Linked DNA regions of Homo sapiens. The protein of the gene in region 1 interacts with the protein of each later gene in a pairwise test. Each region holds a gene or a part of one and is shown on either strand. Other genes may lie near its edges.

What was found.
Region 2: the proteins of HS3ST3A1 (region 1) and UPF2 interact in a two-hybrid assay, tested with the Homo sapiens proteins (one large-scale study listed by BioGRID).

Annotation. Positions count from the first base shown.
Region 1 is NC_000017.11:13,599,130-13,603,214, reverse strand, and holds the start of HS3ST3A1 (heparan sulfate glucosamine 3-O-sulfotransferase 3A1), read left to right. Parts: upstream 1-1,285; 5' UTR 1,286-2,085; coding exon 2,086-2,684; intron 2,685-4,085. UniProt on the Homo sapiens protein: Sulfotransferase that utilizes 3'-phospho-5'-adenylyl sulfate (PAPS) to catalyze the transfer of a sulfo group to an N-unsubstituted glucosamine linked to a 2-O-sulfo iduronic acid unit on heparan sulfate.
Region 2 is NC_000010.11:11,948,810-11,952,309, reverse strand, and holds part of UPF2 (regulator of nonsense transcripts 2), read left to right. Parts: intron 1-60; coding exon 61-244; intron 245-3,500. UniProt on the Homo sapiens protein: Involved in nonsense-mediated decay (NMD) of mRNAs containing premature stop codons by associating with the nuclear exon junction complex (EJC).

The DNA.
Region 1 (4,085 bases):
CTTGAGCCTGCGGTGGGCCCTTGTTAGCACCCGCAGAGGTCCCAGAAAGCTGCCTCCACAGCTTGCAGGGGCTGGTAAGAAGCTCCCAAGCTACCGCCCACATGGTGAGGCAACCTGTGGAGGCAAGGAAGCCAAAAAATAAGGAACAAATAGGATTAGAACAAAAAACCACCTCATGCAGCTTCCACGGGCCACCTCCCTCCATTAGACAGCAAGGCGGTTTGTATCCCTTCCTGACCTGCTCTCCGGGGAGCGCACGAAGAGGATATAGGGTCAGGGGAGGCAAGGGAAAGAGGAAACCGCAGTTTATGAAAGGACATTTAACCTCTTTGCGAGCGTGCATGCGCGCGCGCGCACACACACACACACACACACACACACACAAAAGTACAAACAACATTAAGGAAATACACACTACATTAAAAATTGGGCATAGGGACTTGGAATCGGAGTTGAATTTTTTTTAAATTTTAATTTTGCCTTTGATTTATGCATTGGTTTTTTTTTTTTTCGTAAGAGGTTGTTCCTTTCTAGGCCCTGGAGGACTGTATCATCTTATACAAATCCAAGGGAAAACAATCAAAATAAGAAAAGAAAAGAAAACAAACAAACAAAAAACAGACTGATACGAGAAAGAGCTTTGCTCCAAGACCCGCAGCAGACAGTTGAGTAGGTAGAAGTCCAAGCTGCTGCAGAGGAATTCGGTTTGCTCCAGACAAACGGGGGCGTGGCGTGCAGCGCAGTACTGGGAACTGCTGCAAACAAAACTTCCAAGGGGACGAGGAGTAGGTTCCAGGCGATGGAAAGCAGTGGGATGGGGAAGGATAGGGCAACAGTGCCAAGAGGGGAGCAGAGCGCGGGGAACCTGGAGAGGGAGGGTCAGGGCTGCGGAGGGCTGAGCTGCGGTGGAGAGCTCTGGGGCCCCTCACCAAGCTAGTGGCGTCTTGGGTGGAAGTCAGGCCCCCAGAGATCCGGCCGGCCTTAGCTGTCACTCAGGCAACCCCGGAGCCGCCGCAGACACCGGATCCACTGGAAGGGGGCGAAGCCGCGGGGAGGAATGGGGGACACTGGGGAAGGGGCGTCGCCCCTGCCGCCCCCGCCCTCTCCAGTGCCATTGGGCGGCTGCTGCGGAGCCCGCGCCACCTTTTCTCCATCCCACCCCGCCCGTCTGGCCCCGCCTGGCCGCTGGTCCGCGCCCCGCTGCGCTCGTCCGGGGGCTGGTCCGGCCCGGGCCTTTGACGTCACCAGCAAGTTTGCTGCCCTCGGCGTCCCACGTGTGGCGGCGGCCAGCGGCGGCCCAGGAGGCAGCCGGTGAGCGCCTGCGAGCAGAGTGGCGGGGGCCGCTGACAGGTCCCGCGCAGCCCAGCCCAGCCCAGCCACGCGGCTCACAGGTGGGGTCCAAGAGCAGTTTGGAGCAACCCGGCGCTACGGAGAGGGGTGGACGGCTCTGCACGGGCCTCCTGTCTCCCGCTCGGGCAGAGGGACTCGGGGGGACCTCGCTCCTTGGCTGAGAGAACCTGAACTCGGGCGGAGAGAACGCGCCCAGGCGGGCAAGGGGACCAGAGAAAGCCGGGGCTGGAAGTCACTGTCGCTCGCCACTGTCTGGAGCGCACGGAGCGCAGAGGCCCGGCAGCCGCGCGTGCCCTCACGGGGACCGAGCCAGTGATGCAGGATCGCTGAGCGGAGATCCGCGCCGAGAAGTCTCTCGGGGCCGGGGCTGAGACGCACGCCTTCGACACCGCTGCCAAGACCCCGATTCCGGCGACTCTTGCGGGGAACCGAGGGGCCAAGGCTGCCCCAAGCTCAGGACTTGGGCGAGTCTAAGACGATGGTTTCTTAAGCACGGACCCGCGTTCCCCTTCCCGCTCCCTCGACTGGAGGCAGGGATCCTGCGCGGGGCCCCCGGGATTCCGTTTCCCCGCGGAGCCCCGGCCGCTGCCTCCCGGGACAGTTCGCACGGCCACAGGGGCGCACGGCGATGTGGCCTCCGTCCAGCGCGCTGGCCCGCCGGGGGGATGCTCTGGCACCTGTCGGGGTCCAGGCCTAGCATGGCCGGCGCGTTGCCCGACGTCGCCTCCGGCTAGGATGGCCCCTCCGGGCCCGGCCAGTGCCCTCTCCACCTCGGCCGAGCCGCTGTCCCGCAGCATCTTCCGGAAGTTCTTGCTGATGCTCTGCTCCCTGCTCACGTCCCTTTACGTCTTCTACTGCCTGGCCGAGCGCTGCCAGACCCTGTCCGGCCCCGTCGTGGGGCTGTCCGGCGGCGGCGAGGAGGCGGGGGCCCCTGGTGGCGGCGTCCTGGCCGGAGGCCCGAGGGAGCTGGCGGTGTGGCCGGCGGCGGCACAGAGAAAGCGCCTCCTGCAACTGCCGCAGTGGCGGAGGCGCCGGCCGCCCGCGCCCCGCGACGACGGCGAGGAGGCGGCCTGGGAAGAAGAGTCCCCTGGCCTGTCAGGGGGTCCGGGCGGCTCCGGGGCCGGAAGCACCGTGGCCGAGGCCCCGCCGGGGACCCTGGCGCTGCTCCTGGACGAAGGCAGCAAGCAGCTGCCGCAGGCCATCATCATCGGAGTGAAGAAGGGCGGCACGCGGGCGCTGCTGGAGTTCCTGCGCGTGCACCCCGACGTGCGCGCCGTGGGCGCCGAGCCCCACTTCTTCGACCGCAGCTACGACAAGGGCCTCGCCTGGTACCGGTGAGCGGGGCGGGCCCGGGCTGGGGCTGAAGGATCCGGGGGTCCTGGGCTGGGAAAGACGTGGAGGAGCCCTCGGTGACCCCCAGTTCGCCCTCCTCCCCACTTCATGCAGAAGGCGAAGGGTCGTCAAGGGTCTTTCTTCCCTCTCCGCCTTCTCCTTCCTGGGAAGTGGATGTTGAAGGAGAGAGTGGGAGGGAAATTCTGGCCTTCATAATTTTCATCCTTGGGAATCCCTTGCCAGCAAATAGCCAGTCTGGTCTCTTTCTCCTGCTCTGCGAAAGTATTCATGTATTTAACTAAAGGAAAAAAAAAAAGTCTCTTCTAAATTAGAAACCTGTTCAACAATTAATAGATTGCCTTCTCCTTCCCAAGGAAGCCCGTTTTCATTCTTTATCTTTTGGAAAGTTCTTTGTGGTTAACACAGTCTTTACCATCAGGTATTTATTTACCTTGACCTTTTGCCAGATAGTTGTCCTAGGTGGGAAGTAATATAGAGACTTAGTAAAAGTGTCAAGAACCAGAGAATCTGGGTAGTTTGGAAAATATATGTCTGTCTGAGCAAGGGAAAGCAACCAGGCACTGTATTTTAAAGGACGCTTGGCAATAACTTTTGTTTGAGGGCAAGGAATGAGTTTTGTAAAGTGCTTTTGATATTTGCAGGGAAAAGTAACTTTTGTCTTTTGACTGACAGAAACTTTTCTAAAGATCTTCAATCCTCTTTACAAATAAGGTAGCCAATTAAAAGAAGAAGACAACAGAGAGAAAAATACATTGGCACAACTTTGCCAATACAGTTTAGGAAATAAGTCTGGCTTAGATCTTAATCTTAAATTTGCCAGTCTCTTCAAATTCAGACCACCTTTAATAATAAAATCAGCCAGATTCTAATAAAGCTAGTGTCGCCTGGATTTTGTTTGCCATAATATATTGGCTTTTTTTTTCTTTCTTCAAAGTACCAGTAAAAATTATGTTGCTAGAATTTTCCATTTTATAAAGTTTATCTTGTTCATAAAAGATGCATTCTCTTTGTTATTTTAACTGAAACAGTTACAAAAATTACAACATAATTTAGGTATTTTCAAAAAGCCCATTAAATTAATCATTCATCCCCAACACAGAAATGGATATGATTTGACAAGTTTATTTACTTGAGGGGCCAATTGCAGTCTCAGATTGATTTCAGGAGCCGAATTTACAGTCAATCCACTCAGAGAGAAAAGATTTGGCCCTAAAAATAGAATTTGAACATTAAACACTTTTAAAACAGTAACTTTCCATTTGTTGGAAAGAAAAAACAAACAACCTTCCCTTAATATAGATGATATATCATTTAAAATCATCAGCCACTTAAAATATCCCCTTGTGTTTCTGTCATTTATGTTGTATCCTCTGGGAAGTTCT
Region 2 (3,500 bases), on another chromosome or scaffold:
ATTTTAAAATATTTTGTTACTAATTTCTTATAGCTAAATTTATTTTTCATTTGTTATCAGCGTTATGTTTGGTGGAAGAAAAGTTTGGAGGTTTGGACAAAAGACCATCCATTTCCTATTGATATAGATTACATGATCAGTGATACACTAGAACTGCTAAGACCAAAGATCAAACTCTGTAATTCTCTGGAAGAATCCATCAGGCAGGTACAAGACTTGGAACGAGAATTCTTAATAAAACTAGGTAAGCAATTGATTGCAGACAGAAAATGAAGGTGATATTTGGCAGATTATTTCTGGAATTTGCTTTATAATGTTACCAGTCAGAGCTTACATTGTATCTTTTCTATTTTCGGTGTTGAGTGTTACGTAGTAGTGTTAGGTAATGCCTGTGTGGTGTGCTTGATTTCACTAAGTAATTTCAAACCGGAGGACAACAGTTAAGCAGGACTTGCAGGACAGGACTTGAAGCAGGTGACAGTGATGGGGGAAAAAAAACCCACAATCCTGTCTACCTCTCTTACTTTTAGAATTTTTGGTTGCTAATATAAAATCTATTTTTTATTAAAGCATTTCTTATTTTTGCGTATATATTTTCAACAGGCATTATTTCCTAGAAAGTGCAAGCAAAGAAACTGTAGAAGGGAGTACCTGTCAGAAGTTTGGAACTCTACCCTACAGGATTTCAGAGCTTACCCACTGGCAGAGTTGCTTCTGTCTCTAAGGACTAGAGAAAATCTAGAGATAATTAGAAGGTTCTCTATATACTTTAGTATCCTGAGGTTGTTTTGGGGAGAAGAGTTAACTCTTGAACAGCTTCCACTAGAGCTGCAGGAACCTATATGTCTTTAGAAATAACCAGTACAAAGTATAGCCATACCAATCTGGTTTATATGCTGATAGTTCTTAGCATGTTTTATTGTAGTCATTTTAAAGTGACACGTTTTGGCCAGGTGTGGTGGTTCACACTTGTAATCCCAGCACTTTGGGAGGCCGAGGCAGGCAGATCACCTGAGGTCAGGAGTTTGAGACCAGCCTGGCCAACATGGCAAAACCCCATCTCTACTAAAAATACAAAAATTATCCAGGAATGTTGGCGCACACCTGTAATCCCAGCTACTCAGGAGGCTGAGGCAGGAGAATCGCTTGAACCCGGGAGACGGAGGTTGGAGTGAGCCAAGATCACGCCATTGCACTACAGCCTGGGTAACAAGAGCGAAACTCCATCTCAAAAAAATAAAGTAAATAAATAAAAAGTGACCCGTTTTCAGACTATTAAGCTAGTGTTTGATTTCCCACTAGAACTTGGTACATTCATGTCTGTCATTAAGGGATCTTTACTTTCGCCAGTTATGCAAATTATATAAATTTACGACATCGCATATCTGAAGAACCACTTTTCATGGTAAAGGTTTTACAAGTGCTGCTACTGATTGTGCAAGTATTAACTTTTCCTACAACTTAACCCGTAAAGGCATATATGATTCTTTTTGTTCTTTGAACCTTTTTCCAAGTTACCTACTTTCTTTTCCTTTTGAAATTTCTAATTGAATACATGATCTCATATTGAGCAGAGTATTTATGAACTTATTTCACTTGCTTTGGATCCTTGGAAAATTGTTAAGTCTTAGCCTTGTTTCCCAAAAACCTGCATGAATGGTATTCTCTGTATAGTGGACATGAGTAAATATTAGTGTGACACCTAGTTTAGTGACAGAAAAGAGAACAGTTGTGCTTTGTCCTTTGTAGATCAAAAGGCTAAATTAAAGGACTGCAGGCTTCTTGTGAGGACTTTGTCCTTGTTTAGAATATGGAGGTAAAAATAGATCGCTGTTTGTGAATGAAACTCTAAAGATGGTAGCGGCCGCAATCAGTGCACTCCCAAGTCTCCATTTGCTTCCTGGTTGAGGAAGAAGACGTATGCAGAAAAATCAATATTAAATCCGTTTCCTACTGATAAACCAAAAGATAATACAGTATTGTGCCTTTGGTAGTTTTTTGTTTTCAGACACCTGAAAATTCATTGTCTCATGTTAGTTTTATAGTATCCCAATGTTAACATAATAGTTAATTGGAAAACACTAAAACCATTTTTATCATATTTTAAAAATAACTTTTAATAGTATTAAAAGTAATGTGTTCATGACAGTAATTTTTAAAAAACCAAGAAAGCAATACCAATATTCCATACAGAAAGATAATCGTGTTAATATTTTAATACATATTTTTCTACTCTTTTTAAATTTTTTTTGTGTTTGTGATTTTCTAACCAATTGGTTCTACTTAATACATTATGAAATTTTTTCTTGACATTACACATATTCTCTTAAAGCTTTATTTTTTGTTTTGTAATTGGCTGTATTCATTTGTATCTATGTGCCATAATTTACTTAATACAGCTGTTTCACTCTTAGGTTGATTCTAGTTTTATACCACTGTAAATAATATTTTTAGTGTACCTGTGATTTTCTCAGGATAGATAGGATTACTGGCTCAGATTTTTATTTTAATTTAAGAACAAAACTAAAATGGTAATTGGCAATGTTATTTAATTCTGGTTTGGAAGTGTTCAAAGCAGTATTCATGAAATGAGAGGGTTAAATCACATCATCGCTAAAGTTTCTTCCTGCTTGAATCCTCTAAGATTCTATGCATGAACAGGTATTTATTTAACACCTACTGTGTATTTATTAATATATGGGCTGTCTTAAGTTTTGAACATTTAAGACAAGTTCTTTGTCCTCAGGGGTCTTATAATCTGATGTAATATTTATGAGATCGTTAGGAAAAAATAACAACATGCTATATCATCAAATGTAAGATGCTGTAAGTTCTCCACATGCTTTAGGAGCAAATAGGAGAAAAAGTAATAGATTGAAGTACTCATTGACAGTTCATGCAGGAAGTAAAACTGAAACTGAACATGAAGAGTGGATGGGATTTGAAAGTGCATATTGAAGGGTATTCTCTATTGAGAAGGATATTGGGCAAGCAAGATTTCAAAGCAGTGTGTTCTGTGACAGGAGACGTCTAAGGCAACTTCAGGGGAGGGCTTAGGAGAGAGGAGTGGGTAGCAGATCAGTGGGATCAGATGAGACCACATTGTGTGCATATCAAAAGTAGAGAGGGTGGATTGGAATTCCAACAGGAAGAAGAATTGACTGGGCAGTGAAATGTGGGATGGACACAGGAGGTGAAAGCAAATTCAGGCCAGGGAGTTCCATTAGGCTTAGGAGGAGAATGCTGTTATTGAAGAAAAAAAATTAGTCTGTATGGTGACAAAGCTGCTATGGCGTTTTGCCCCATTCCCCCGTCTTAATTTGCATACATTCAAATTGATAGCCACATATGATTTCTCCATTAAAGTGGCACGATTTTTTTCATGTCTTTTGAGTTTTTGGAGACTCTTTAAATCTCACTTGGTAAAGAGTGTGGCCAACGCTGTATCTTACATATGGCTGAGACTGTACCTCATCTGTTACTGTTTTCTACCTTTGTCC